4 linked regions of the Homo sapiens genome follow. Changing the gene in region 2 together with the main gene of any one other region gives a genetic interaction. Each region holds a gene or a part of one and is shown on either strand. Other genes may lie near its edges.

Evidence for each region.
Region 1: of PPP1CC (region 2) and SMARCB1, changing one enhances a phenotype caused by changing the other (phenotypic enhancement), as found in Homo sapiens cells (one study listed by BioGRID).
Region 3: changes in PPP1CC (region 2) and MAP2K5 together harm fitness more than expected from each alone (negative genetic interaction), as found in Homo sapiens cells (one large-scale study listed by BioGRID).
Region 4: changes in PPP1CC (region 2) and ERBB3 together harm fitness more than expected from each alone (negative genetic interaction), as found in Homo sapiens cells (one large-scale study listed by BioGRID).

Annotation. Positions count from the first base shown.
Region 1 is NC_000022.11:23,835,088-23,842,939, forward strand, and holds the end of SMARCB1 (SWI/SNF-related matrix-associated actin-dependent regulator of chromatin subfamily B member 1), read left to right. Parts: 3' UTR 1-1,781; coding exon of another isoform or gene 1,782-1,875; 3' UTR 1,876-1,972; coding exon of another isoform or gene 1,973-2,067; 3' UTR 2,068-2,571; coding exon of another isoform or gene 2,572-2,767; 3' UTR 2,768-2,922; downstream 2,923-7,852. Other genes in the region: DERL3 (derlin-3), read right to left, coding at 1,977-2,067, 2,572-2,644, 3,051-3,358, 3,477-3,550, 3,624-3,689, 3,808-3,900.
Region 2 is NC_000012.12:110,733,446-110,741,525, forward strand, and holds part of PPP1CC (serine/threonine-protein phosphatase PP1-gamma catalytic subunit), read right to left. Parts: intron 1-8,080. UniProt on the Homo sapiens protein: Protein phosphatase that associates with over 200 regulatory proteins to form highly specific holoenzymes which dephosphorylate hundreds of biological targets.
Region 3 is NC_000015.10:67,642,623-67,650,702, reverse strand, and holds part of MAP2K5 (dual specificity mitogen-activated protein kinase kinase 5), read right to left. Parts: intron 4,473-8,080; coding exon 4,404-4,472; intron 4,316-4,403; coding exon 4,234-4,315; intron 1-4,233. UniProt on the Homo sapiens protein: Acts as a scaffold for the formation of a ternary MAP3K2/MAP3K3-MAP3K5-MAPK7 signaling complex.
Region 4 is NC_000012.12:56,093,285-56,100,496, reverse strand, and holds part of ERBB3 (receptor tyrosine-protein kinase erbB-3 isoform 1 precursor), read right to left. Parts: intron 7,153-7,212; coding exon 6,947-7,152; intron 6,734-6,946; coding exon 6,601-6,733; intron 6,399-6,600; coding exon 6,308-6,398; intron 6,096-6,307; coding exon 5,941-6,095; intron 5,241-5,940; coding exon 5,187-5,240; intron 4,833-5,186; coding exon 4,691-4,832; intron 3,995-4,690; coding exon 3,875-3,994; intron 3,750-3,874; coding exon 3,651-3,749; intron 3,453-3,650; coding exon 3,267-3,452; intron 2,713-3,266; coding exon 2,557-2,712; intron 1,998-2,556; coding exon 1,922-1,997; intron 1,739-1,921; coding exon 1,592-1,738; intron 850-1,591; coding exon 752-849; intron 660-751; coding exon 468-659; intron 324-467; coding exon 252-323; intron 1-251. UniProt on the Homo sapiens protein: Tyrosine-protein kinase that plays an essential role as cell surface receptor for neuregulins.

The sequences.
Region 1 (7,852 bases), on a different chromosome or scaffold from region 2:
AGCCAGCTGTGAGGAATATGGGAATAGCCCTCCCGGCCTGGTGCCAGCTCTTGGAGTTGACACGGTACAGGGAGGAGACACAGCCCAGGGTCCCTTCCCAGCCCTGCCTCCAAGGAGTTCATGTCCCCTCTGTTCTCATCTGTAATAGGGAGGTGTCCCCATTCTTCAGAATGGACACAGGATCTGGGAGGGCAGCAAACTGGCTCGCAGCTCCAGCCTTACTGAAGAGAATGGGCACAGATCCGGGCACAGATCCCAGCACAGACTGCTGCCACCCTCAGCTGTTGGCAGGTCCCATGCTGCCAGGGCAGGGCTAGGGTCAGAGGCTGCTGTGCTCCCTGGAAGTGGGGTAGGGCCCCATGTGGGGCAGAGGCAGAGCTCTGATTAGGGATTGGGGTTCTTGGTCGCTGAGATGTGAGAGGAGGGCTCCTTTGAGCACATGTTAGCATGGGACTCTTCCCAGGGAGTTTGCACTCAGGGCCTCTGCCCTCCATCAAAGAGTGGAACTCCCCAGAGCCCCATGCACAGCAAGGGGACAGCTGGGCCTTACTGGAAGGCCTTGAACAAAGGGGAAGATTCCCAGCCCAGCTGCTCTTAGACATGAACAGGTTTCATTGCTGAGGTGTTTGTTCTGTCCATGAGGTAGGAACCTCGGCAATGAAAGGGTGAGGCAGCCCTGTGTCTCCACAACTGGGGGGATGGAAGGAACCTTGGCTGCCTCACCCCACAGGTCGGGCAGGGCCACCTGGCTGGGAGGTGCCGGGAAGGCTGGGCCCTCACTCCTGACCGCCAGCTCACACCGCCGCAAAGCCATCTCCACAAGGTCTGGCTACAACACGGAGGGCAGACTCAACAGAGAACAGTGTTGTTACCATGAAAATGACAACCTGTCTTTGGAGGAGGCCCCGTGCCACTGAGCATCCAGAAATAAACCACAACATGGACAGGCTTAGAACAACAAGGAAAGCTGCCAGGTCAGAAGAGAAAAATGAGCCACAGGGGTCGGATAAGGCTCACACACGTCCTCAGCTAAAAAGGGCAGGAACAGAACCTTCCAGAAGTCCCTGCCTCACCCAGTCTCAGAACTCTGCTAAGGTGAAAACTTAGGCTCTGAGGTCATAGAAAGGGCAGAAGACCTAGTCCTGGCCCTCTTCTGCACCTGAATCCATGGGGCTTTGGCATCACCAGATGAAAAATGAGGCATACGCCCACCTGTCAGGGTGGCTGATGAGAGACAGGAGAGGCTAGATTGGCATCAGCCTGAAGGCACCACTGGCAGGAACATCTGTAGGCTGGTTTGGCACAACCTAGGAGACGCCTGTCCTGGCCCCAGCAGCCGAAATCTGGTGAACTTCCCCGCTGACTGGCAGGTAGCAGAGGCCTATGGTGGGCAGGACTTGCCCAAGGCCCTGGTGGGGCCAGGATGAGAACCCTGAGCCTGTCACCTGTGAGCTCAAAAGCTCTGCCTGGCAACCTGTGAGCTCAAAGCTCTGCCAGGCAACCATGGGCAGTTTCTTTGCCCTCTGTGGGCACCCCTATCCTACCACCTGCAGTTGGGCTGAGAGGCCACACTGAGTGAGGACGGGGCAGGCATAGAAGGATGTGGCCAGGTGAGATGGGGAAGCCAGTGCTGTGGGCCAAGAGACTGCAGCTCATTCTGTTTATTCAGGTGGGCCCTTGCATGGGCCCAGCCTTTAGGATGGGTTTTTTCTGCCCCAAGTAGGGGTCATGGGTAGGATGGAAGCTGCCAGAAGCCTCTTAGGCCTGGCCCTGGGTGGGGGTCACTGCTGCGGGGGTGGCAGATGGGGTCCTGGCTGTTCCTCAGGGAGGGGCAGGTAATTGGGGTCTTCTGCAGGGGCATCCAGGAGCAGCTTTCTGTGGGGAGGGGCCCGTGTTGAGCACAGGCCAGCACAGGTCCCCATCGGTGGGGATCCTTCTGAGGGTGGGGAGAGGGAGGGAGGGCTCTCAACACTCACAGGAAGCCAGGGGTCTGCAGGAGCCTCTTGCCTCCAGGCTGGTTGGGGAAGACGTCCTCCAGGAAGTAGTAGATATGGCCCACCGCAATCCCTGTGAGACAGCCACGGACTGTGGGGTCACCCTCCACAGCCCAGAGTCCTAGACCAGCAGAGCCTGCCCCAGGCCCCCATCCACAGCCTGGTGGCCCTGCAGGCCCCACAGCATGAGTGCCCCAAAGCCTTGCACAGAGTGCCAGCCCCGGGTTGGCCGTGAAGGACAAGCTTAAAAGGCCCAGAAGCAGGCAGGACCCAGGGAGGGGAGGGCCTGAGAATAGTGGAGGAGTGGGAGCCATGGGGCAGGAACCCTGACCCTCCCATCCTCACTCCCATCAGGACCGTGCAAGCATCAGTAGATCCGTCCTGACGATGCAAATTATGTGGGCCGGCTGGCTTGAGGGGCTGTAAGAGCACAGCAGCTGGGAGGGCAGGAAGATGGGGATGGAGCCAGGTGTGAGGAGAACTCCAGCAAGGATGGGAGAGGGGCCCCAGGGCATAAGCAGCGTGTCCTGAGGGGAGTGGCCAGCCTGGGGCGGACTAGATGTACCGGGAGGCTCACCCAGCAGGTCCACGAGGATGGAGTTGCCCAGCAGCAGCGAGAAGCCCATGAGCGCCCAAGGCAGGAACGGTGCCTGGAAAGTGAGCAGGCCGAAGAAGTTGACCCTCACCCGAGGGCTGCGGCGGCTCCACACGTACACCAGCATGGCCATGAGGGCCTGGCCCAGGAAGAACAGGCTGCCCAGGAGTCCCAGCAGCTGGGCCAGAGTCAAGGTGCTCCGGTGCAGGCCTCAGCCCAAGCCCAGGGCCCCTCTGACTTCCCAAGACCCTGGAATTCTTCCCCTCATCTCCCCTATGTGCTATTCCCTCATCAAGATGAGCCAGTCCAATAAAGGCGACACACTCCACGGGCTTCAGGTCCCACGAAATCTGCCCTGCACACCTACAGCCTCATCCCAGGGCCCAACCACTGCCTGTCCCTGCCCCAGTTTCTCCCGGCTACTCGCATTCAGGGCTCAGCTAGTGGCCCTGACAACCCACCTGGCTCTTTTGTGCATGGCTTTGTATTTTGCATACAGCACTGAAGATCTAGCCCTGACCCCTGCAGCTGAGCACAGAGTGGGCCCTCAACACATACTAAGCTGGAGACAGCGACTGTGTCCCTCTCTGGCATGGCTGTGTTGGCCCCAGGACCAACACAGGCTGGACGCCGAGGCGCCCTAGCCCGAGGTTCCAGAGCCTGCGGGAAGGATACGGTCATAAGGACGCCCCCGAAGAGAAACATGAAGACGAAGTCGGCCGTGCGGCCGCGGAAGGAGCCCTCTTCCAGCATGCGGCAGTAGCGGAACCTACGGCGTCGGTATAGGAAGTGCCACCAGGCGGGGCCTCAGTTTCCCCGTCCCGGCCTCTCTCCCAGCCCGGCCGGCCTGCCCTCCACCCAGCCCGTGTCCGCAGGGCGCAGGATACACGAAGAGCATGTTGAAGAAGAAGCTGAATCCCAGGGGCCCGAAGAAGAGGAAGTTGGTGACGAGCCTCCAGACCTACGGGGGACGGGCGGTCAGGTGCGGGGTGGGTGGGTCGGGCCCACAGGTGCGCGGCGCGGGGCGGCCTCACCTGGAACTTCCGGAACACAAGGTGCGGGTTGAAGTAGAGTTGAAAGGGGCTGAGGAGCTCCAGCTGCTGTGGAACCAGGGGCCAGTCAAGAGCTGCCCGGGAGCCACGCCGTAACCATGGCGACCCTCACCCCTCCCGCCAGAGGCTGTAACCAAGGCGACGTCCGGTCCGCCCGGCCGCTTACCACCGCGGCGGTGGTGAGGACACAGGCTGCGGTGTAAGCCCGCGTCACCGCCGGCACCTGCAGGAACTCGGCCGCTAGTCCCTGCCACGCCATTGAACCTTCTCAAGCACGCGTGGCCCAGCCAGCAACGCGCTCTTTAACCCGCCTCCCAGCCCCGCCTTCGGCCAATCCGCATCCGAGGCGCTGCGCGCCCCAGGCTGAAAAGAGAGCCCCTGAGCCCGACAGCCAATGGAAGGAAGAAGAGGGAAATTAGGGGCGGAAAGGGAGAGTGGGCGGGTAGAGGCTGGTGGCCAATGGGCAGGCGCCAAGGTTGAGCACGTGGCGGTTGTTGTGGCTGCGGTGGTGGCGCGGGAGAACGTGTGGCCAATGAGGAACTGGTCATTTCGCGGCTTTCTAGGAGAGGACCAGTAGCGTGGACCCACGACACCACGGGGGCGGGGCTAAGATCGTATGGGTTACAGGAGCGAAGACCCGAGCAGGCGAGGCAAAACTGGAAAGGGCGGGGCGCGTGGGCGGGGCGCGGAGTGTGGCGGCTCAGACCGTGCTGGCTCACTAACTGACGACCTAGCCACAACGTTGTCCTCGCTGCCAGCCCAAGACAGGCCCACCTAACCCACAGCAGGGAGGCATTCGGGAATGTGTCCAAACCTCCCCAAACGTCCAGGGCCCCACTCAAATGTGCCGGCCGCTGTCGGGGTTCTTCCCCGGGGGCCCAAGGAAGGAGAGGCAGGACTGCGGGATTGAGTCCAGGTGGGGCGCGAGGGTTGAGAGGCGCACCAGAGCAAGTGGACAGGCAGGAGAGGTCCTCAATATTTTGGTGGAAAATAGAAACCAACCTACCCACCTTCCTTCCCTCCTTCCCTCCCTCCCTCCCTCCCTTCCTTCCTTCCACCGTTTATTAAACAACTGTTTGCCTGACACTGTTCTAGATGTTGGGGATGTAGCATGCAATAAAAGACACTGTCTCTTAGAGTCCAGCCAGGAGGCAGTCAATACAATAAGCTAGTGCTGACACTTGATGAGAATATTGCCAAGTGAGGGGTGGGGCCACGTGGGCGTCCGCAGTGCCAGGTGGGGTGACCTGGGATACCTCTAAAGTTTGTCACTTTGCAAGCATCCCTGTGTCCATCAGGATGGTAACTGTGAAAAGCAAAACAATAAAACAAAATAAGTGTTGGCGAGGATATGGGGAAATTGGAACCCTTGGGCACCGTTGGTGGGAATATAAAATGGTGCATCCGCTGTGAAAAACAATATGATCATGACTCAAAAAATTAAAAATAGAATTACCGTATGATCCAGCAATGCTGCTTGTGGGTACACATTCAAAAGAATCAAAAGCAGGGACTTGAACAGATGTTCATACACCCATGTTCATGGCCCCATTATTCACAATGGTTCACATCAGTTCACCCACCGATGAGACAGACGAAATGTGCTGTCTACATGCAATGCAATACCATTCAACCTTAAAGGAATGAAATTCGGATACATGATGCAGCATGGATGACCCTTGAAGACATTACACCCAGTAACATAAACCAGTCACAAGGCTGGGCGCAGTGGCTCACACCTGTAATCCCAGCACTTTGGGAGGCCGAGGCGGGTGGATCACCTGAGGTCAGGAGTTCGAGACCAGCCTGGCCAACATGGTGAAACCTCGTCTCTACTAAAAATACAAAAATTAGCTGGGCGTGGTGGCGGGCACCTGTAATCCTGGCTATTCGGGAGGCTGAGGCAGGAGAATTGCTTGAATCCGGGAGATGGAGGTTGTGGTGAGCCGAGATTGCACCACTGCACTCCAGCCTGGGCAACAGAGTGAGACTCCGTCTCAAAAAAAAAAAAACCAGTCACAAAAAGACAAATACTGTATGGTTCCACTTATATGAGAGGGGATCAGGGAGTTATTGTTTAATGAGTGCAGTTCCAGTTTGGGAAAATGAAAAAGTTCTGGAGATGGATGGTGGGGAGGGTTGCATAAGAATGTTTAATACCACTGAACTGAACACTTGAAAATAGTTTGGACAAATTTTATGTTGTGTATATGTTACTAAAATTTAAAAAAAAACAACAAACCTCTGTGTTTGCTGTCAGGGTAGTGGACTGCCAGAGGAATCCTTGAGCAGGGGGAATCCTTAAGGGACAGTGATTACTTTCGGGGCTGGGAGGTGGAACCTGGAGGACAAGGAGGGGTGGGATATGGGTTTGCCTACAGACGGGACAGGGCTGAGAGGGGAGTCCAAGTGGATTCAGAGGCCTGAGCCGCAGAGTGGTTGGATGGTGGTGGTCTTTGTTGAGATGGAGGGCTCGTGGGGAGAAGGTGAGGGGCATAGAGGGTCCTGTTCTGGACTCATCGAATTTGAGGCATCTGTGTGACATCACTTGGAAAAATCTGAGTGTGGTGTTGGGGTAGGGGTTGGAGCAGACAGTCTAAATGTGGGTGCCGTCATCCAGTAGTAGATCAATGGTATTTGTAGCTTTGGGCGTGTGTGAGATGCTCAAGGGGCAAGGGTTGATGGAGAAAAGAGGCCAGGCCTGGGTAGCCTGACCTGCAGTAGCCAGGGAGGGAAGGCAGCCCCAGCTGGGGAGGCCAAGGGAGGCTGAGCCAGGAAAGGGCTTCAGGAGCCAGGCAGTGAGAATCCAGGGAGACGTGGCCCGGGAAGGGACTGTGAATTGCAGCCATGCCAAGGTTCCTGGTAACCAGGATAATGGCAGGCAGGAGGGAGAGGAAGGCACACAAATGGATGTGCCTTAACAAACAAGGGGAGTGCAGCCTTGGAGGGAAGTGTGGAAAACGAGGGATGCTCTGGACAGGGCCCTGAGGTCCCCCGAGGAGACTGGAACTGGCCAAGAGGGAGAACTGGCTGAGAAGGCTCTCAGGTGGATCCCAAGAGCGTGAGGGTCCCACAAGGGCCCTGAGAGGGGTTCCCTGGGGAGTGGGGTGAGACCAGTGCCTAATGACAGTGGGTTCAGGAGCCTTCCTCCCTGCTCTGGAGGGGACGGGGAGAGCCTGGAGTGCTGGAGGGAAGTGCATTTGCTGGAGGGATGTGAGGAGAAGGTCTGGCCTCATACAGCAGGGGTTGGACCAAGACACTGAGGGGTTGGGGGCTGGGAGCAGGGTGAGCGGACCCCCGCAGACAACCTTGGTTTTCCAGCAAAGCAGGCTAAGGTCATGTTGGAAGCATGCCAGGCAGAGCAAATCCCACCCTGGCAGCCACAGTGTGCAGCAGGGCGGGGACCCAGGGCCTCTGACGCCTGGGCGGGCGCCCGGTGGGCACAAAGGAGCCGGTGCAGGAGGTCGGGTTTCATGTCAGCGTGGGGAAGGGGAGATATTCCTCCTCCAGGCACTTAGCAGGCGCTGGCCGGCCCTCAACTCAGGGTCAGGCTGGGGCTAACAGGAGGGGATGTCATTGTCGACAGGGGCGTCTGTCTCCCCTTCGACTGGGGGCCGATAAGGCAGGCGCCCAGATTGGGGGCTGAGAAGCACATTCCTGGGAGGCCAGGAGCCTGGGGCGGGTGGGGGAGGCCAGCCAGGGCTGGGAGGGAGGACATCCAGGGAACAGCAGCTGGGTCCACTGCAGAGGCTCCCTTTCCGGAGCCCCGGGATATCCTCAGATGGGGGAACTGAGGCACGTAAGGATGCAGAACAGGGCCTGGGGCAGACCTCCATTCTTTCTTGTCCAGTCTGAGGCCCAGAACAGGCCACTCTGGAAATACTAGGTCCACTTCTCCTTGGACCCTTGAGCCCCTCCAGATAATTCTTTATAGAGGGAAGCCCTGGGCATCCCAAGTTCCCAGGGTCCTAGAGATGCAGGGTGTGCCTTACCCTAACATCAGGGTGGCAGACCTGTCGGCTGGGCCAGCCTTCTTTCTCCTGTGCTGAGGATGGTGGGTGGGTGGAGACCTGTGGTTCCTCGGCAAGGTGACAATGGGCTCTGCTCCCCATGCCACCTCCCTGGCATTGTGACGCTTCCTGCTGACTCCCAGAGGACACCTAGATCTCCTGTCCAGGCCCTCTCAGTGTCTGTAGGCAGGATAGCGCCCT
Region 2 (8,080 bases):
TGCCATCAGATGAAATCAATGTTGCTAACAATTTTTTTTTTTGGCTTTGGACGCTCTCCACTGTCACCTTTGAACATAGTTTATATTTGTTTTAACTCCTTTATTCTGTTTCTGTTTGTCCTCTGGGTGGGGACATTCAGAGATCAGTAAAAAGCAAAAGCAATACTAACAACAATTTAAAAATTCTTCTTTTTTGAAGAAGCCTGGTGCCCAGGCTGGAGTGCAGTGGCATGATCATGGCTTACTGCAGCCTCAACCTTCCAGGCTCAAGTGATCCTCTTGCTCTGGCCCCCCAAGTGCCGGGATTACAGGCATGAGCCACTGCACCTGGCCTTAAAAATTACTCTTAATATTAAGATTAGATGCAGCTTTTCCAGAGAAAATAAAGATTTGTATTTAAAGAATGGTGCTTATGAAAAACATCAACAAACATGGTCTGAAAGCTTCTTAAATTCCCTAAAATTAGCAGAAAGAAAAAAGTTATATAAAGATAGAAACTGCCAAAACCATCTTCCATCAGTTATCATACAACTGCTCAGACTTCAGGCCTCTGCTCAGATACCACACTTCACCCTGGAGAAAAGCTTCTCTCATCCATCTCCTCTCCCCTCACAAGCTTGCTGCATGCTTTTTGAAAGGCTCTCTCAACATCAGGTCACTACCCACCACACCCCCTCAACCATGCTTGTATTTGTTTTATACTTGCCAGTTTGCTTCTGCCGGCTCATCTGGACCCACTGGTAGAATGTAAACCCACAGCAGCAGTCCTGCTCTGTAGTGTACACCAGCCATAGCCAGCACACAGCAGGTGCTCAAAATTTGTTGCATGACTGAAATCTGGATAAGTCTTTAAGTAGTGTTGACTGGTGGCATTAGAATTAAACATATATTCCAGACTATATATTTATTTATTTAGAGACGGAGTTTCACTCTTGTTGCCCAGGCTGGAGTGCAATGGCACGATCTCGGCTCACTGCAACCTCCGTCTCCCGGGTTCAAGCAATTATCCTGCCTCAGCCTCCCGAGTACCTGGGATTACAGGCATGCGCCACCACATCCAGCTAATTTTATACTTTTAGTACAGATGGGGTTTCTCCATATTGGTCAGGCTGGTCTCGAACTCCCGACCTCAGGTGATCCACTGCCTCGGCGCCCAAAGTGCCAGGATTACAGGTGTGAGCCACCGTGCCCAGCCCAGACTATATACTTTTGATGAGCAAAAAGCCTGTTTCTGCACTATAAAATTATAAAACAATAGGGCCACTTGCTTACCAGGCTTTACTGGAGTATTTTTCAAAGTATGAAAATCTAGAATTACTCTTAAATTTCACGTTGAATTGTCTAACAGAGATTTCAAATGGGGCTTGGCAGTCCAAGTGAACACTGGAGAGTTCTTAAAAGTTGTCATATCAGGCTGGGCGTGGTGGCTGGTTACTGCGGAGGCTGAGGCAGAAGAATCGCTTGAACCCGGGAGGTGGAGGTTGCAGTGAGCTGAGATCGTGCAACTGCACTCCAGCCTGGGCGACAGAGTGAGACTCCATCTCAAGAAAAAAAAAAAAAAAAAAAAAGTTGCCATATCAGCCAAAAGCATACAAATTCACTTCACTATTTTTTTCTTTCTTTTTTTGAGATGGAGTCTCACTCTGTTGCCAGGCTGGAGTGCAGTGATGCGATCGTGGCTCACTGCAACCTCCACCTCCTGGGTTCAAGTGATTCTCCTGCCTCAGCCTCCCAAGTAGCTGGGATTATAGGCGTGCGCCACCGTGCCTGGCCCACTTCACTATTTTCAATGTCCATCAAACAGAATTATTTACTCGTTGTAGTTAACATTTACTGAGCACTTATCCACTAGGCACTGTACTAAGGGCTTTATATTGCCATTCAATCCTGTCAACGATCCTAGGAAGTCAGGCACTGTCATCTCCCATTTTACAGTGACTTAGTCCAAGGTCACAGAGCTTAAGGACACGAGGCCGCGATGCTACATCTAGTGGTGCATTCTTAATTCCCAATTAAGAATCTGTTCTACATTGAACTTCAAAACCAAAGGAGAAGGTTGGGCACGGTGGCTCATGCCTGTAATCCCAACACTTTGGGAGGCCGAGATGGGTGGATGACCTGAGGTTAGGAGTTCGAGACCAGCCTGGCCAACATGGTGAAACCCCATCTCTACTAAAAATACAAAAATTTGCTGGGCATGGTGGTGCACGCCTGTAACCCCAGCTACACAGGAGGCTGAGGCACGAGAATCACTTGAACCTGGGAGGTGGAAGTTGCAGTGAGCCGAGATTGTGCCACTGCACTCCATCCTGGGCAACAAGAAAGAAACTCCGTCTCGGCCAGGCACGGTGGCTCATGCCAGTAATCCCAGCACTTTAGGAGTCCGAAGCGGGCGGATCACCTGAGGTAAGGAGTTCGAGACCAGCCTGGCCAACATGGTGAAACCCCGTCTCTACTAAAAATACAAAAATTAGCCAGGCGTGGTGGCAGGCACCTGTAATCCCAGCTACTCGGGAGGCTGAGGCAGGAGAATCGCTGGAACCCACGGGGCAGGTTGCAGTGAGCCCAGATCGCATCATCACACTCCAGCCTGGGGAACAAGAATAAGACTTTGTCTCAAAACAAACAAACAAACAAACAAACTCCGTCTCAAAACAAACAAACAAACAACAACAAAAAAGCAACACCAACTTAGACCTAAGGATGTGACTTTTCAGTAGAAGTATTAATATTTCTTTATCTGGCTAGAAAGGGAGATTCAGGAAAACGTATTATTACTGTTAAAAGCGAAGGTTGCTCTGTAGAAATGTATCTGATCTATTTTTCTGGCAAATCACTGACACGAGCAATAATAAAAACTTCCACACATTTTTATTGAAAACAAACTGGTAAAAATTTGAATTATAAAAGAATAGCAGCCAGATGTGGTGGCTTGGGCCTATAATCCCAGCACTTTGGGAGGCCGAGGTGGGAGGATCACTTGAGCTCAGGAGTTAGAGACTAGCCTGGGCAACATGGTGAAATTGAGTCTCTACCAAAAATACAAAATATAGCTGGACATGGTGGCGTGCGCCTGTAGTCCCAGCTACTCGGGAGGCTAAGATGGGAGGATCACTTGAGCCCGGGAGACAGATGCTGCATTGAGCCGAGATCATGCCACTGCACTCCAGCCTGGGCCACAGAGTGAGATCCTGTCTCAAAAAATATAAATAAATAAAATAGCATTGGTGATTATTTACAACACCAGCTCTTTCTCATAAGCAATACTAACTTTTGAAAGTTAGCTGCTGGCAAAAAGCAAAGCAAAGATGGAAACTATGGAAGGAAATTTAAGACAAGTTTGAGATTATTTATAAGGAATAAAAAAGTATTTTCCTTGCCACATAAAGGCCCCTTAATTGTTTAAATAAAAACATATTAAAGAAATAGCATATACTAAAAAAGCCCTAGCTGAATTCTAATGAAGTTTCAGAACCTAAGAAAGGCACAAGTGGTATAAAAATAAGCCAACGAAGATTTTGCTGTTTTAAAATAATCCTGTTAAAAAGTAGGTGATAATTTTAACAATATGCCACATCATATTCATTTCAGTGAAATCAATAGCCTCATGATATTTGACAGATTTAGGAAAATAAGACTCAAACCAAAACAAAAAACAGTAAATACTTCCAACATTAAGCATTCCCATAAACGACTGAGTTCTTTTCTGCAAAAAGTATAAACCACAAAAATGTTATCAAGAATCCTTTGGGCCGGATGCGGTGTCTAACGCCTGTAATCCCAGCACTTTGGGAGGCCAAGGTGGGTGGATCAGCTGAGGTCAGGAGTTTGAGACCAGCCTGGCCAACATGGTAAAACCCCATCTCTACCAAAAATACAAAAATTAGCAGGGCATGGTGGTACATGCCTGTAGTCCCAGCTACTCAACAACTGAGGCTGAGGCAGGAGAAATCGCTTGAACCTGGGTGGTGGAGGCAGCAGTGGGCCGAGATCCTGCCACTGCACTCCAGCCTGGGTGACAAAGAAAGACTCAAAAAAAAAAAAAAAAAAAAAAAAGAAAAGAAAAGAAAAAAGAACCCTTTAAGTTTCTCTGCAAAGTCACCAGCAGAAAGACTTCCATGTTCTGATTATCACAATTGTTTCCACACCCTGCCCTCTCCCATCCTGATTTTCCTAACAGATGGGGTTACACTTCAGGCATTGAGAAGTGACACCAAGGCAGGGAGCTGTGGTTCACGCTTGTAATCCCAGCACTTTGGGAGGCTGAGGTGGGAGGACTGCTTGTGGCCAGGAGTTAAAGAACAGCCTAGGCAACACCCCTGTCTTTAAGAAAAAAAGAAAAAGAAAAAAAAATTAGCCAGGTGTGGTGGTGTGTGCCTATAGATCCGGCTAGCCAAGAGGATGAGGAGGAAGAATCGCTTGAACCCAGGAGTTCAGGTCTCCAGCCTGGGGACAGAGTGAGACCCAGTCTCTAGTAAAAAAAATAAAAGTGACACCATTTTTTTCAAGGCAGATAGGATGTGGCTGCAAAACACTGTCTACTGTTCTCAATAAAGCATCTTGAGTTTTCTACACCTCGAGTAAAGCCAATCCATTAAAAACTTTAATTTTCACAGTCTAAGAACACATTTCGGTAATATACCACTGAGTAGACTACATTTTGAGTTTTCATTTGCTGTAAGCTTTACTGTCGGTGATGACCACTACCTTCTAGAAGAGGGATGACAGTAAACCCCAGTGAAGTGGGGAAGCTGGAGATTTCAGACAAATCACCAAGATCCACAAACACATCATCTGTTCTTGATGCTTTGGATACAGAGGTATGATCTTAAAATATCAAACTCTATCCTGGAATTCCATAAGCTCCATGGAAATGAAATCCTTCCTTCTTGGTCTTGAATGACTTTCCAGTTCTTTATCTACAAAGCGACTGACACCCAGAATATTATCTCCTTCATATTTTAATCTCTCAGGTCAACTAATGGCCTCAATTGTAAATTAAGTTAAATGGTGAAGTCCACATAACATCAATAATTTCCCTGCTTCACCATCAGGAATCCTCACCTAGTCAAGTGGGCTGACTGGTACTGTGATTCTGCACAACAGGTTACAGGTTGTAATAGGACTGTGCTTTCAAAGACATCAAATCACCTCACTAATTTCTACAGCTGACCACTGCTGGGCTACAACTGCATGTCCATTTGCCCAGTTATGAGGAGGAACACCCTAGGCTCAGAATGCAGAGCGCTCCTGTGTGTCACATCCCCCGCAAGCACAACGTCACACACAATTCTGTCAGATTTCACTGCTGCCTCCTGCTACTGACAGGCAAGAGGGCACTGCGGGCACAAGGAGAGTAATCCTTTTTCAATGCTGTGGTTTAAAAAAGGACTCCTGCAAGCTGCAGATCATCTGTCTCCAACAGAGCTTTCCCACCTTGCCTAGGAGGAGAGGAAGTGGGCATATGACCAACATACTGATGGGAAAGGAAGGGCAAGGGCTCACATCAGAGTTCTTATCAATGAGGGAATTAGAAACTGACAACTTGGATGTGAGTGTAAAAATTACCTGCTCTGTAAACAAATAATTACAGGCTGGGCACGGTGGCTCATGCCTGTAATCCCAGCACTTTGGGAGTCTGAGGCGGGCAGACCACTTGAGGTCACGAGTTCAAAACCAGCCTGGCCTCATCTCTACTAAAAATACAAAAACTTGGCCGAGCGTGGTGGTGCATGCCTGTTAATCCCAGCTACTCAGGGGGCTGAGACACCAAAATCGCTTGAACCCGGGAGGCAGAGGTTGCAGTGAGCCAGGATCCCACCACTGCACTCCAGCCTGGGTGACAGAGTGAGACTCTGTCTCCAAAATAAAATAAAAAAATAAATAATTACAGGTGTTCATTAGGAAAGATTACTTTTGTTTTTTTTTTTGGTTAGCATATTAAGAAACCTTCCCCTTTTTAAACCATTATGTTTGTCCTTTATTATCTTTAGGACCAGGGATGGCTAAACACCAGAATATGAACGTTTTATACTGCATCAAAAAGATGAACATATGGGTTATTTAAACAATCTTAGAGTTTCAGAATATCTGAACACTCCCTACCTTCAGAACAACCCTTATGTATCAGAGGATTAAATCTGTAAGCACTTTCTGTGAGCCAGGGCAGAGATCATATTTAAATCACTAAAACAAGTCAGGCAATTCTGCAGAGCCTGACATGGTCTTGCACTTTGACAATGGCCTTCTTCAAAGCAAAGATGCTTCTTGCAAACCAAGATGTGAAGTAAGTTACAACCACCTGCTATGCAAAAAAAATGCTAGCCACCATGGCTCCTTGAAGGAGGTCATTTACAAAGTAAAACTGCCCCAAATCTCACTTGTCTTCAATACATCAGACCAAATCAACAGCTGGCTTATTTTCTCTCAAAATGCCGTTTTACTGTGTAGTTATTTAAATAACTAACATCAGTTATACTAAGGAGTTAACAACCTTAAGTTTTATCATCAGCAAGGCAGAGCTTGGATAAAAGCATCCATGGTGGGTTGCAGAGGTGATGCCTCGCTTACAGAAATACTCAGAGTTCAGAGAAGAAAAGAACTGCAAAGGTTAGTGACTAAGATCTAAACCAACATGCTGTTTTTCTTAAGACTTCACTTTTCAGTTAGCTTTTTAGTACTATTACTCAGCTACTTCTCAACTAGGTTATACTGCTCGCAAGCTTAAAAGATCAATTCTAAACACGTAAAAAAATCTGGCCAAAGTCACAAGTCATATTCCCTCTACTTTCAGATATACTTACATCTTATTTAGGGAAAAAAAAGGTTTTGGGGGCATTATGAAAAGAATAAAATTTAGGCCGGGCACGGTGGCTCATGACTATAACCCCAGCACCTGGGGAGGACGAGGTGCGAGGACTGCTTGAAACCAGGAGTTTGAGAACAGCCTGGGCAACACAGTGAGACTCTCATTTCTATTTTAAATTATTAAATTTAATTTTTTTAAATAAAAAATTGTAAAACAGAATTTATTACCAACATCATTTAACTTAGATATCTACATATCCTCAATGGATCATCTTCAACTGTTTCTCTGCCAATTTAACACCCACGAGAAAAAAAGAAATTTAAGTATACTTTGCAGTTAGCCTATTCCCAAGGCATTAAAATGCACTGCTTTATTAATTTCAGCAAAAAATGAAATATAAGAAAACCTGGTTTTCAAGTGCCACATAACAAGAGGAACTATTAAGAAACAATGATCTCATTTTAGATGTATCATTACTTACCAGGCAAAGTACTTATTACAATTTTAAAGATCAAAATTAACAAAAGCTGTTTATGAATAGAGGCAGTTATGGGCAAACCAGAACTTAAATTAGCAAGCCTTAGATGATCTTAAAATTCTAATGTTTCTAATCCATGCAAATTCCAACTTTTCCTGTTTCCTCAGAGAAATAAAGCCACACATATCCCTGCAGAGATAAGCAGAATTTTAAAATTTAGAAAGAAAATATTTAACAAAAAGTTCCTTTCTTACAGCAAACTATTTTAATCAGTTTCTGACCAACTGCTGCCTCGAATAAATTAAAGAACTATATTAACTAGTATGAAAAAGTATGGTTCTTATATAAATACCTGGCATTAAAAGAATGACAAGGTTTTCACCTACAATACAAGGTTTTCACCTGCAATAACATTTCAAGAGCATTTCAGGGGTCCTTAATGACATTTAGTGTTTTTTTTGTTGTTTTTTTTTTAAAGACAGCATAAAAGGAAAGAATGCACAGATTAAGAAAAGGACGAGATATTTTCAGGAGCTTCATTTTAATAACTTACTTTAAAAGATCTGTAAATTCTAACACCAGAGCTGTCCAACTGTTCATGCCCTCGACTCCACCACTCACAGCATTTATAGTCCAACAATATTTTAGGACTGTATAAAGGCAAAAAGCAGTTGAAACTGCCAAGTTCCCATTATGAAGTGTCCAAGTTAGGGGATATGACTGAATTCTTACAAAGTCTTGGATAAGATGTTAGCATCCGTTGACATGCCCTTGAATCTGAAAGCAGCTCATTT
Region 3 (8,080 bases), on a different chromosome or scaffold from region 2:
AATTACACATCATGACTAAGTGGAATAATTCCAACACTGCAAGACTGGTTCATTTTGCAAAAATCAATTAATATAGTATACCATATATTAATAGAATAAAGGACCAAATATGCACGATTATTTCAATAGATATAAAACAGGCATTTGACAAAATTTAATACCCTTTCATAATTAAAAAAAAAAAAAACTCAACAAACTAGAAATAGAAAGGAATTTCCTCAACCTGACAAAGGACAACTATTCCAAACCCATGGCTAACATCATATTTAATGGTGAAAGACTGAAAGCTCTCCCTCTAAGGTCAGGAACAAGAGAAGGATGTCTGCTCTCATCAGTCTATTCAACATTGTACTGAAGGTTCTAGCCAGGGTAATTAAGCAAGAAAAGGAAATAAAAGACATTCAGAATTGAAAAGAAAGCACTAAAACTACCTCTATTTGCAGATGGCATTATCTTGTATATAGAGAACCCTAAGGAATCCACAAAAAGCTATTAACATTAGTAAACAAGTTCAGCAAGGTTGCAGAATACAAGATCAATATACAAAAATCAATTACAGTTCTATACACTGGCAATGAACAATCCAAAAATGAAATTAAGAAAAACAGCATTAAAAAAACTTAGAAGCAAATTTAACAAATAGTTACCACTTATACCCTAAAAATTATTTTTAAATCATTGAAAAACAATTAAAGAAGACCTAAGTAAGTTGAAAGACATCTGTGTTCACGGAGTGGAAGATTAAATAATGTTAAGACAGCAATATTCCCCAAGTTGATCTAAAAATTCAATTCAATTCTTATCAAAATCCCAGCTGGATTTTTTTGGAGAAATTGCCAAGCTGATTCTAAAATTCAAATGAAAATGCTAGGTATTCAAAATGGCCAAAACAATCTTGAAAAGAACAAAGTTGGAGCACTTACACTTCTCGATTTGAAACTTAAAAACTATAATAATCCAGAGTTTTCAAGTACAAGTAATCAAATATGGTGTGGTACTGGTACAAAGATAGACAACTAGATCAATGCGAGATGTATACGCATTGATCTGAAAGTACAGAAATATATGTTATGGTCAATTTTCAACAAGTATAACAAGAAAATTCAATGGGAAAAACAGTCTTTAACAAACGGTACTGGAACAAATGTATATCTACATGCAAACGAATAAATTTGGACCCCTATCTCATACCATATATAAAAATTAACTCAAAAATAAATCAAAGGCTTAAATATAAAAGCTAAAACAATAAAACTTGAGGCTGAGGTGGGAGGATCACTTGAGCCCAGGAGTTCAAAACTAGCCTGGGCAACATAATGAGACCGCAGCTCAAAAAAAGGAAAAGAAAAGAAAAAAGAAAGTGAAAAGATAAACAATAAGTGAAAATATTTGGAAATCCCATATCTGATAAGAGCCAAGTATTAGAATACATAAAGAATTCTCACAACTCAACAATAAAAGCCCAATAACTCATTTAAAAAATAGACAAAGGATTTGAAAACATATTTCTCAAAAGAAGGTATACAAATGGCCAATAAGCACATGAAAAGATGCTCAACATCATTAGTCATTAGAGAAACCTAAATCAAAACCAAAATGGGATACCATGTCACACTACAAGCCCACAATTTTAAAAAGACACAAAATGACAAGTATTGGCAAAAATATGAAGAAAATGGAACCTTATACAGTGCTGGTATGAATGCAAAGTGGTGTAAAACAGATTGGAAAAGTTTGGTAGTTTATTAAAAAGTTAAACATAAAGCTACCATATGACCTAGCAACTTTACTCCTAGGTATATACCCAAAAGAACTGAAAACACTGACCGGGTGCAGTGGCTCACACCTGTAATCCCAGCACCTCGGGAGGCCAAGGCGGGGAGATCACGAGGTCAGGAGATCGAGACCATCCTAACACAGTGAAACTCTGTCTCTACTGAAAATACAAAACTTAGCTGGGCATGGTGGCACGCGCCTGTAGTCCCAGCTACTCGGGAGGCTGAGGCAGGAGAATCGCTTGAACCCAGGAGGTGGAGGTTGCAGTGGAGGTTGCAGTGAGCCGAGATCACCCCACTGCACTCCAGCCTAGGCGACAGAGCGAGACTCTGTTTCAAAAAAAAAAAAAGAACTGAAAACGTATGTCCACACAAAAACTTGTACACAAATATATAGAGTAGCATTATTCATAATTATGCATAAAGTAGAACTATCCCAAATGTCCATCAACTAATGAAAGAATAAACAAAATGTAGTATAGCCATACAACGAAATGTTATTCAGCAATAAAAAGGAATGAAGTTCTCATATATGCAATAGTATGGATGAACACTGAAAACATTATACTAAGTAAAGGAAGCCAGACACAAAGGCCATATATTATCAGATTCCATTTATATGGAATGTCCAGAATAGGTAAATCCATAGAGACAGAAGATAAATCAGTGGTTGCCAAGGACTTGAGGAAAGAGAAAGTAGAGAGTGAGTACTAATAGGTAGGAAGTCTCTTTCTGGGGGTGGTAAAAAGTGTTTTGGAATTATACAGTGGTGATGACTACACAACCTTGTGAGTATATCAAAAACCATGGAATTGTACACTTTTAAAGGGTGAATTTTATGGTATCTGAGTTATATTTCAATAAAAAATTTTAATTTATTTGTTTTTTGATACAGGGTCTCACTCTGTTGCCTAGACTGGAGTGCAGTGGCACGATCACAGCTCACTACAGGCTTAATCTCCTGGGCTCAAGCAATCCTCCCACCTCAGCCCCCAGAGTAACTGAGACTACAGGCCCGTACCACCATGCTTAGCTAATTTTCCTTTTTTTATTTTTTTTAAGACAGAGTCTCACTTTGTCACCCAGGGTGGAGTGCAGTGGCGCGATCTTGGTTCACTGCAACCTCCACCTCCCAGGTTCAAGCAATTCTCAGTCTCAGCCTCCCAAGTAGCTGAGACTACAGGTATGCGCTACCACACCTGGCTAATTTTTGTATTTTCTATAGAGACGGGTTTTCGCCATGTTGGTTAGGCTGGTCTCAAACTCCGCTTGCCTCGGCCTCCCAAAGTGCTAGGATTACAGGAGTAAGCCACCGTGCCCGGCCATATTTTTAAAAATTTTTTTGTAAAGATGAGATCTCACTATATTGCTTATGCTGGTCTCAAACTCCTGGGCTCAAGCAATCTTCCCACCTTAGTCTCCCAAAGTGCTGGGATTACATGCGTGAACCACCGTGCCCTGTTTCAACAAAAATGTTTGAGTAGAACTGAAAAATTGAAGACTTCAAAGAAAGAATGATAAAAGTTACAACACAGTAACATGTACTGGCTCAATGAATCCACTTTTTCTGGTCAGTCTCCACAGTTACCATACTTACCTATATGGCTGTAAGATTTTTAATTTTTGACATTCTACTATAACTAATTTAGAGCATGTTGTACACCTTATGACAGTATCAAGGTACCAATGTTGGCTCATTAAAGTTTTGCAGGGCACAAACTAATTGCTTTAGTAATGTACTGAGAATCTCCACAAGGAACTAACAATATTTTCTTAAGTTGTGTTTTAATGGACTAGACTATGGAAAACTGAATATGTAAAATTTAAAGACTGCTTAGATTTAAAATTGGTAAATAATAATAATGATGACATCATTTCACTGATATGTCCCTAGAAATCTGTATTTTGCCGTAATATTCAGGTCAAGAAAGAACTACCAAAATAGAAATGAATAAAAAAATAGAGAGGGAAGGAAAGGGCTAAAGTCCAAAGAAAATTAAACACATCTTGGCTAAACAGCTGTGTTGAAAAACAATTTCTTATCTTGCAATTAAGAACCGATTTCTTTCTGAAAGACACAGGACATTGGGTTAATAGATTTCTTTAAAAGAAAATCTGTTTTGGCTATTGAAACATTAAAAGAACAGAACATCTGTTTTGCAAGTAAAGACAGATTGTGCAAAAGAATCAAATATCAAACCACCAATTAGACTAGCATTTAATCTGTTCTATTTAAATTTTCAATAAAAGTGAAGTTCAATTCTTAAAATTACAGTTCGGCTATAAATATTTAACCCCAGGAACCCCTAACACTGAAATAATCTTAGAGTATAAATGAGGTAATTATTAGCATATTTTATTATCTTTAATTCTATTTGATATCTATATCAAAACCAGGTTTTAAAGCACTATATACTCTAAAAATCATTTTAAAAGTATTATAAAAGGGAAAACTCACCATCCATGAATTCTGTACATATTGAAATCCTGTTTTCTACAAAAAATGCTCCATAAAATCCAATGATATATGATGAATCGCACTGTAACAAAAATAAGACAAAAGTAGTTATAAACCTGCAAGTCAATACCATAGGCATGCTTTACAAATAAAAATTATGAAAAAATTACCTTATAAAGAATTTCCAATTCAGACATAATTTGCTTCTGAAGTTCCAGTGTAATATCTAGTAGTATGACCTAAATATAGAAAGGTATTAATATTTTTTAATCTTCTAATTATATTAGTTATAATCACTATGAAATATAAGAACTAAAAACATGGTAGTTCCTTTATTCTTCCCCACCTCCTTCTTCTTACCACTATAATTCCCAGTAATACAAGCTGTATCTGCATCTGTCTAACCTTTTGTCCTTCTATACTGGGGGAGGTGGTACAGAAGTGATTGATGGGACCAAAGAAAAAAGCCAGGTCTCAAAGGTCAATAGTAATGGCTTTAAAAGTCAGTTAAGTTATAACACTCTTAATTTATGCACTCTATTTTAGCCACATTGGCTATTTTCAAAAGAGGAGCATAGGAATGACCCTCAAACCAATATAAAAGAATTATGTTGGCTACGTGCAGTGGCACACACCTGTAATCCCAGCACTCTGGAAGGGAGGCTGAGGTGGAAGGGTACCTGAAGGCCAGGGGTATATGGCCAGTCTAAGCACCATAGCGAGAACCCATCTCTACAAAAAAAAAAAAAAATTACCTGTGTGTAGTATGATCGGGTGGTCCCAATCTACTTGGGAGGCTGAGGTGGGAGGATCACTTGAGCTCAGGAATTTGAGGCTGAAGTGAGCCATGACTGCACCTCTGCACTCCCACCTGGGTGAAAGAGAGAAATCCTGTCTCTTAAAAAAAAGAACTATCTTGTGGTTTGTGATCAGACACTAGGCAATAAGCAGAGAGGATGATGAATAAAAATGACATTTTATTTATTTATTTAGAGACACAGTCTCATGCTGTCACCCAGGCTGGAGTGCAGTGGGGCGATCTTGGTTCACTGCAATCTCTGCCTCCCAGACTTAAACAAACCTCCCACCTCAGCCACCCAAGTAGCTGGGACCACAGGTGTGCCACCATACCCAGCTAATTTTTTGCATTTTTGGTAGAGATGGGGGTTTCACTATGTTGCTCAGGCTGGTCTCGAACTCCTGAGCTCAAGCAATCTGCCCACCTCAGCCTCCCAAAGCACTGGGATTACAGGCATGAGCCATCACAACTGGCCAAAAAATAACTTTTTTCTTTTCTTGAGACAGAGTCTTGCTCTGTTACCCAGGCTGGAGTGCAGTGGCATGATCTCGGCTTACTGCAACCTCTGTCTCCTGGGTTCAAGCAACCTCTGTCTCATGGGCTCAAGCGATTCTCGTGTCTCAGCCTCCTGAGTAGCTGGGATTACAGGTGTCTGCCACCACACCTGGCTAATTTTTGTATTTTTAGTAGAGATGGGGTTTCACCATGTTGGCCAGGCTGGTCTTGAACTCCTGACCTCAATGATCCGCTCACCTCAGCCTCCCAAAGTTCTGGGATTACAAGCGTAAGCCACCATGCCCAGCCAAAAATAACATTTTAAGTGGGGTTTTTAGTTATGAGAGAAATAAGGAATTTTAAAAATATATCATCTTTTTTTTTTCCAGTCAGGTAATGTTCTTTGCTAATCCTGTTACAGAAAGTTAAAGCTTGAAGAAATCTTATTTCATTAACTCCCTTCTTTTGAGTGAGGAGGAAACCACGTTTCCCTCCTGGGAGCCACAGAGCCTGGGAATGGTAGGACCCCCTCCTCTGGACTCAGTCTCATGGGCTTTTCAGTACTTTATGGTTTATTTAAAATATCAATCACTGAGTGATATTACCCACAGTGATTTATAACCCATAAATATAAAATATTTATAAACTTATCTAGAATAAATTCTAGTTTATTTCAAACACATATTTTTTTAAGAAAGAAGACCATACTGTTCAAATTCTACTAAGCATGTCAGTGAAACTAATTCAAGAGTAATTGTTTTATTTATTTATTTATTTATTTAGAGATGGAGTCCTGCCCTGTCACCCAGGCTGGAGTGTAGTGGCGCGATCTTGGCTCACTGCAACCTCCGCCTCCCGGGTTCAAGCCATTCTCCTGCCTCAGCCTCCCAAGTAGCTGGGATTACAGGCACCTGCCACCACACCCGGTTGATTTTTCTATTTTTAGCGCAGACAGGGTTTCACCATGTTGGCCAGGCTGGTCTCGAATTCCTGACCTCAGGTGATCCACCTGCCTCAGCCTCCCAAAGTGCTGGGATTACAGGCGTGAGCCACCGTGCCCAGCTTGTTTTTTACTTTTAAAAGGCAGTGATGAGAATAGAATAGGTGGAAAACAATTTTTATGATTTGTGGCAGAGTTTCTGGCTCTAGACATTTCTAGATAAAAACTTAACATTCAGAATTACTATGATAGTGTAGTTATGTAGCATTCAACTTTGAATTACATTTTGTATTACAACTGAAGAATATATATACAATCATACTGAAGAAAAAAGCATAAGTTATGCATTATAAACTGCTAATAGAGCAAGGAAAGAAAAGGACAATTCTAAAGTACATTTTATAGTCCTGACATTGGCCAGGCGTTGATTTGGGGAAGCGGAAGGTGGGGAAAAAAAAGGCATAGGTGGTTTCTATCAAGAGTTTGCAGCTGGGCGCGGTGGCTCACGCCTGTAATCCCAGCACTTTGGGAGGAGGCTGAGGCGGGCAGATCACGAGGTCAGGAGATCGAGACCATCCTGGCTAACACGGTGAAACCCCATCTCTACTAAAAATACAAAAAATTAGCCAGGTGTGGTGGCGGGCACCTGTAGTCCCAGCTACTTGGGAGGCTAAGGCAGAAGAATGGCGTGAACCCAGGAGGCGGAGCTTCCAGTGAGCTGAGATCACGCCACTGCACACCAGTCTGGGCAACAGAGCGAGACTCTGTCTCAAAAAAAATAAAAGAGTTTGCTTTGGGGTTATTTATAAGATCTCAGTAAACTAGACTGTAAGTGTAATACAAAACTGCCAAGAAACATTTAAACACTTCTCCTGATCAATAGTCACTTGCCAACAATATTCACTTACATTTTTGTTTTTGTGTAAAACTTACCAACAAAATTAATTCATCTAGCATCAGTTCAATCCTATAGCATAAAATACTACAGCTATTCCTACTATGATGACAAGTACCAGGAATCTCTCACTCTAAAAAAGTCTGATAAAAGGAATGAAGTTATTATTAACCTTAAATCAATGGTTCTCAACCCTGGCCTCATATCGTAATACCTAGGGCACTTGAAAAAAATCCCAAGGTGCAGGCTTTACCCCAAAACAATGGAATGAGAATCCCTTGGGTTGGGCCCACATCTTTGTTATTTTGTAAAGCTCCCCAGGTAATTCCTAACCCAAAGTAAGGTTGAGAATCACTTATTTAAGGTTTCAAAAGCCATTTATTCAGTGCTAAGATATATGACTATTAAGATATATTGCATCTCCAGGCCACCAACAACCCAGAAATGACATGATTCCACATTGCTAGCCACCCTCCTGGAATTAACCCCAAACTACTGGCTGTGAATATATCATTCCCTTGATCAAGAACCTTAATGTGTTCCCATCGCCTACAATAAAGTTAAAACTCTAGCATGACATTCAAGGAATTCTTCCACAATATAGACAACTTATTCTAACTCCTCTTCCCACTACTCCCACCACAAACCCACCCTTCATGTGAAATCAGATGACATTTCCTGGTGTACACACATATCCTGTGCTTTCCCTACTTACAGC
Region 4 (7,212 bases), about 55 Mb from region 2:
CTAATTTTTGTATTTTGGGTAGAGACGGGGTTTCACCATGTTGGCCAGGCTGGTCTCAAACTCCTAACCTCAGGTGATCCACTCTCTCTGGCCTCCCAAAGTGCTGGGATTACAGGTGTGAGCCAACTCGCCCGGCCCTCACTGCCTTCTTTTTTGCAGGACACTGATTAAACCTCAGAGGTTTCTAATGTCTTCCATACTACTCGTATCAATCTGATCCTAAAACCCAGCCTCTCAGCAACAGAACTTACCTGGCAAGACTCCCCAAGATTACCCTGGTTCATGGGCATGTATCCAGATGATGGACTTAAAAGGCTCTGGCTCTAGGATGAAAAAATAAGGAAAAGGTTAAGATGAAGGGAGAAATCTACATTCACCATGGGGGCCTTTGAGTAGTTAATCTGGGTATCTGTAGGGTTTGTGAGGGCTCAGGGTGCAAAGTGTTGGGTAATTAGAAGTTGTCTTACCCCACGTGGCCGATTAAGTGTTCCAACTGGTAGGCTGAGGGCGGAGCCCAGTGTGGTGGTTGCCAGGTTGTCCTCCTCTGCTTCCAAGTCTAGGTCTAGGTCTAGTTCTGGCTCCAGCTCTACTTCCTCTAGCTTCTTGTTTGTCAGACCATGGGGCTCTGGCCCAGGGGCTATTCCAGGCCCACTCTCTCTCTATATCGATAGGTGATTGTTAGGGGGAATCCTGGTTCCAGCCAACTCCTCCTTTTTCTAAATTTCCTTAGCACCTCCTACTCCCTACTCACCTTTATGACCAGATACCGTGGTGGGTCTCGGGCCATCCTGGTGAACTCATTGGCTAGTTCTTTAAAGGTTGGGCGAATGTTCTCATCAATCATCCAACCTGGAGATAAGATGTAGGAGGTAGAGACATAAAAGAGAATACATTCCATGGCCGGGCGCGGTGGCTCACACCTATAATCCCAGCACTTTGGGAGGCCAAGGCGGGTGGATCACCTGAGGTCGGGACTTTGAGACCAGCCTGGCCAACATAGTGAAACCCCATCTCTACTAAAAAGACAAAAAAAAATTAGCTGGGCGTGGTGGTGCACGCCTAAAGTCCCAGCTATCTGGGAGGCTGAGACAGAAGAACTTAAACCTGGAACGTGGAGGTCACGGTGAGCCAAGGTCACGCTACTGCACTCCAGTATGGGCAACAGAGCGAGACTCCATAAAAAAAAAAGGAATAGAGCCATAAGAGGAGTACAGAGGGAAGTCAGAAAATGGCTGCAGTCAGGCCGAGCATGATGGCTCACACCTGTAATCCCAGCACTTTGGGAAGCTGAGGCAGGCGGATCACCTGAGGTCAGGAGTTTGAGACCAGCCTGGCCAACATGGTGAAACCCCATCTCTACTAAAAGTGTAACAGTTATCCAGGTGTGGCGGGCGCCTGTAATCCCAGCTACTCCGGAGGCTGAAGCAGGAGAATCTCTTGAACCCGAGAGGCGGAGGTTGTAGTGAGCCAAGATTGATTGCACCATTGCACTCCAGCCTGGGTGACAATTGTGAGACTCTGTCTCAAAAAAAAAAAAAAAAGAAAAAAAAAGAAAAAAAGAGAAAATGGTTGGGCTCAGCAGGTAACTCACACTTGACCATCACCATGTAGACATCAATTGTGCAGATCTGGGGCTGTGCCAACCGCTCCCCCTTCTCTAGCAGGTCTGGTACTTCAGCCAATCGTAGCCCTGCATAGGGCTCTGCCCCGAAGGTCATCAACTCCCAAACTGTCACACCTGTTGCAGGAAGACATGGACTAGTCACTGGCAAAATAGTAGACATGGGCATGAAGTGAAGGGAAGGCAGAACCTGATCTAACACAAAAATCTGAAGTGCTTAGAGATTCTAAGAGGGGGTCTCAAAAGGTAAATTTGAAACTGGGGCCAGTGATGGTAGAGAGGGCATCCAGATGCACTGACCATAGCTCCAGACATCACTCTGGTGTGTGTATTTCCCAAAGTGGATACTCTCAAGGGCCATCCACTTAATTGGAGTCTGCGGATTAAAGATAGAGGTATCACAAGTTTATTTCCACAAATTTTCTTAGGATTTCCAAGTCCCAAATTCTTTTTTTTTTTTTTTTGAGACGGAGTCTCGCTCTGTCGCCCAGACTGGAGTGCAGTGGTGCGATCTCGGCCCACTGCAAGCTCCGCCTCCTGGGTTCACGCCATTCTCCTGCCTCAGCCTCCCGAGTAGCTGGGAGTACAGATGCATGCCGCCACGCCTGGCTAATTTTTTTTTTTTTTGTATATTTAGTAGAGACGGGGTTTCACCGTGCTAGCCAGGATGGTCTTGATCTCCTGACCTTGTGATCCACCCGCCTTGGCCTCCCGAAGTGTTGGGATTACAGGCGTGAGCCACCGCGCCCGGCCAGTCCCAAGTTCTTGATCATTATTTTATTTGTTGCCCTCTGAACTAAAATATCTGGCATCTGCAGCCTTCTCTCCTTGAACTTACCATGAAGCATCTGCTTGCCTCTGGAAGAGACCACTGGCTGCTCCCTATCCCCATGCTTCACTCCACCCCCGCCTCCTTACCCTTTGTGTCTCCTCACCTTGGCCTCACTGTATAGCAGCTGCTTATCATCAGGAGGCAGCAGGTCAGCCACACCAAAATCTGCCACCTGAACCTGACTGGGTGACTTGAGTAGCACGTTTCGGGCAGCCAGGTTTCTATGCACCATACCATGTTCCTCAAGGTAGTACATTCCCTGTAGGTATAGGGGAAGAAAGTATTCTTAAGGTTGGGGGAATCAGTCACTGAGATCTGGAATTCCCCCAAATCTTGAAGGTACCTCTCAGCAGTGGTCCCCAACCTTTTTTGGCACCAGGGACTGGTTTTGTGGAAGACAGTTTTTCCAGGGGAAGGGGAGGGTTGGTTTTGGGATGAAATTTTTCCACCTCAGATCATCAGGCATTAGTTAGATTCTCATAAGGAGTGCACAACCTAGATCCTTCACATGCACAGTTCACAATAGAAGTCAAGCTCCTAAGAGAATCTAATGCTGCCCCTGATCTGACAGGAGGCGGAACTCGGGCGGTAATGCAAGTGATGGGGACTGACTGTAAATACAGATGAAGCTTCACTCGCTTGCCTGCCGCTCACATGCTCTGTGGCCTGGTTCCTAACAGGCCATGGACTGGTACCAGTCTGCAGCCCGGGGGTTGGGGACCTCACCTCTCAGAACTTCAACCTTCTCACTTTTTCCTGGCTGGCCCCCAGACAAGCAGTTCTTATCACAGAATTCCTCCAGGCTTCTCTCACCTTGGCAATTTGTACTCCCCAGTTGAGCAGCAGCTGTGGCCCCAGTGCCCCCCGGTGTTGTCTCACATGATCCAGCAGAGAACCCAGAGGCAAATATTGAGTGACAAGCTGCAGAGATGACCCTGGGCATAGTCCCAGCAGCCTTACAATGTGGGCATGGTCCAGGCTGCCAATGGCCAGCATATGCTAAGAGACACAAAAGGTATTATCTAGGAAACCAACAGGTTCACATACACTCAGCATGTGCACAGCCAGCCCAGGCCCCCCCACCCCCAACATTCTGGCTAACATAGTAGCTGCTGAGAAGCACAGGACCCTGCTTCTACATGATTGTATCTAATATTGTCCTCTCTCCTAGCGGCATACAGAATTTCCTTCACTTACATCTGTCACAGCTTGAAAACTCTGCCGTCCACTCTTGTCCTCAATGACTTTAATGCAGACTGGAATCTTGATTGATTCACCCTCAGGGATCCACACTCCCTGGGAAGTTTGGGGCAGGAGTTGGCATAAGGTCATTCTCCCTAGGTCAATCCTATGCAAAAATCTTTCACCCCTTTGCCCTAGATGCCTTCCCCACCTCTCCAGAATTCCTATGGGTCACTCACTTTGTGCACAGTTCCAAAGACACCCGAGCCAAGCACTTTAAGCTTCCTTAGCTCTGTCTCTTTGAAGATTCTGGCCAAGACTTTGTTAGCCTTCTCACTGGGGTCCAGAGGCTCTATGCTCTGAGGAGCAAATGGGAAGGAGTTACTCAGGAAAGGCCATTCCCATGTCCCACTCCAACCCGCTCCTCATAGGTGAATGCCAAAAGCAGCACAGCTGAAAGGGCAGGAAGAGGAAGCACCGTTAGTCCTGGAATGGATTATAGGCATATTGAGGTACAGACCCTGAGAACTGAGGAAGTTATTTGTGCTCATGAGATCAGGAATCAAAGGGGTTGGGTTTTCCCTTTGATGGAGGAGCACAAAGTGGGGAAGGGGACAGCTAGGGAGAGTTGGTAGTACTATTACCACCTTGAGTACCTTTTATACAGTGCTCTGTGCTTTCCAAAGCACTTTCACATACATCATCCCCCTTTACCCTTACAGCCATCCTGGAAGGACAAATGTTATTTCCTCTGTATAGATGCATAAACCGAGGCACAGAGAAGATAAGTAACTTCTTCAAAGTCATGTGGCAAATTAATGGCAAAATCAGGACTAGAATGCATGCCTCCCATTTCTCTGACCAGTGTTCTTCTAGGGGACCACACTACTTCCTTGAAGAAAGGGATCAAATCTCTGGGGAAAGAGGAGGGGAGTGACATTTATCCCATCACTGACCCCTGGGTGCACAGGGTACCACTCAAAATTAAGCTATAAAGAGACTTCCAGGACATGCAAAAAAAGAAAAGAAAAAACAAAAGTAAGCTAAGTACTCACCTCACCCCGTTCCAAGTATCGCCTCATAGCCCTTTTATTCTGAATCCGGCGCCCACGCCAGTAGAGAAAAGTGCCGCCCAGCATCATGAAAATCACTACCAATCCTGCTATCACTGTCAAAGCCATTGTCAGATGGGTTTTGCTATGGGATATATAGAAACCCAACATTATCCTGGGTTTGCATCTTCCTTACAAATGTCAACTATACTTGTGTTGAAGGTATGATGCTGACCTGGGGCAAGAAATTAACATTCACATATATATCCTTAAGCACTGAAGGGACCAACCTAAATCTGGACCAGTCTTAGACTACTGAAAGTTAATTTTAGGAAGGGAAGTCCAGAAGCCTGCATTCTTGAGTCCCAAGTGTCCAGTGATAGTGGACTGCATACATAAAAGGCCAGAATGAAGACAGCCTCCCTCTTCTCTCCAGGTAACCACCTCTCTCCCAACTCCCAAATATCCCCAGTTTCCAGAATCTCCAACCCCATCATACCCGATCAGCACCAGTGTTTGTCCTAAACAGTCTTGAAGCTCTGGTCCTTTACACCTAGGGAAGAAAGTCACCACCTTAAATGAGAGCTTGGACAGCAGAGGCTCAATTTCAACAGCCTAACATATAAAAGCTTGTTTCAGAACTTACCGTGGCATCCCATCCTGGAGCCCAGAGCTGATCCCAAGACATGGCCTCCACCTCCAGCTCACTAGCTCTCCCCAAGCCCCTCTTCTGTGAAACTCCCTTGAACTGAGGTTATTCCAGGTTCCCAAAACTGTGGTGTAATTTTGTGCTGTTACTGATTTTCCCTTTCTCCAATCCTTCGCTACACAGCTGGGAGTGATTCTTTTTTTTTTTTTGAGACAGAGTTTCACTCTTGTTGCCCAGGCTGGAGTACAATGATGCAATCTCAGCTCACCGCAACCTCTGCCTCCTGGGTTCAAGAAATTCTCCTGCCTCAGCCTCCCGCGTAGCTGGGATTACAGGCATGCGCCACCACGCCGGGCTAATTTTAAATTTTTGGTAGAGACAGGGTTTCTCCATATTGGTCAGGCTGGTCTCGAACTCCCGACCTCAGGTGATCCACCCACCTCGGCCTCCCACAGTGCTGGGATTACAGGTGTGAGCCACTGCGCCCGGCCAGCTGGGAGTGATTCTTGAATCACAGCCTCTCTCTTCTTTCTGCTTCCCTCACTCTAGTTCTGTGCTCCTACCCTTCCACCTGACCCCCTCTCCTTATTATCCCATCACTGACCCCTGGGTGCAGTTCTCATGGCAGGGCCGACATTCATTCTGAACATCTGGGTACTTGTAGATTGGGCCCTTGGCACCTAGGACTCCATGGGGGCAGCTGCTCACACAGTGGGGCCCATCTCGAAAATGGGCACATTGAGCACAAGTATCAGAGCCCTGAGTGGAAGAGAGAAGGTCAGGAAGAATCAGATCCCAAGGTCAATTCCATACCTCCCAGCAAAGACCAACCCAGACATTCAGGATCTTCTATCTGCAGGCCCTAGCATTATCTGGCCTCTCTGTGCTATCCTTAGCCATATCATTCCCCAGATGCTCCAAGTATTGCCCCTTCTCTGTCTCCCTTGGAGATCCTGGTGCTACTAGTATACCGAGCCATTGCATGTGGCAGTGCCCTCCATGGGTTGGCATTCCGGGTGGCAGGAGAAGCATTCGGCCTCATGGGCAAATTCTCGAGGCTCCCTGTAGTGGGGAATAAAGGGAGGGGGGGGTCACTTCCAAGTCCTGACCTTCATGCTCCGATCTCACAACCACAGGTCTCCTACCTCAATCCCACCAAGGCACATGCAGAAAGCTGTCTAAAGACTTTTATTGTATGCCACCTGAACAGTTCCATTGCAGGGCCCCACCCCCACCCATCCTTGACTGGCTCCCCTTACTGTACCCATTCAGAAAGTTGCAGTGGGTCACACAGACACCTCCTCGGCTATAATTTCGACAGGACAAGCACTGACCAGGGCCTGGGCCCCAGCATCCCCCAGAGGAGCACAGTGGGTCACACACTTTGCCCTCTGCCACTGGAAAGGAAGGGGTGGGTTAGGAGAGGAGTCTGAGGACTCCCAGCAAGCCCTCTCTTCATTATTCTTCCTCGTTACTGCTTCCAGCCTAACAGCCCCCTTCTCCTTGGTTCCATCCCTCAACCCTACTCCCACGTCTAGGGCAGAATAGTCCTTTCAGCCCTCTCCTCCCTGACTCCCTATTCTCACCACCTAGCAGACCCTTTCCCTCACCGCAGTCTCTGCGCGGCCGATTATGCTTGATGTCTAGTCGCTCTTCCGTAGGCCCCCGAAGCACCTTGGTCCAGTTCAAAGAGTGGTGGTAGCAGAGCTGCCTATTGGCACTTATATAGATACGCCCAGCACTAATTTCCTTCAGGGATCGGAAGCCCAGAGATGTGACATTCAAGTTCTTCATGATCAACAATGAGAAGCCCCGGCTGAGAATAAGGAGACAGGATGAGAGGAGAGACTACTAAGGGAACATTAACTATTCAAAG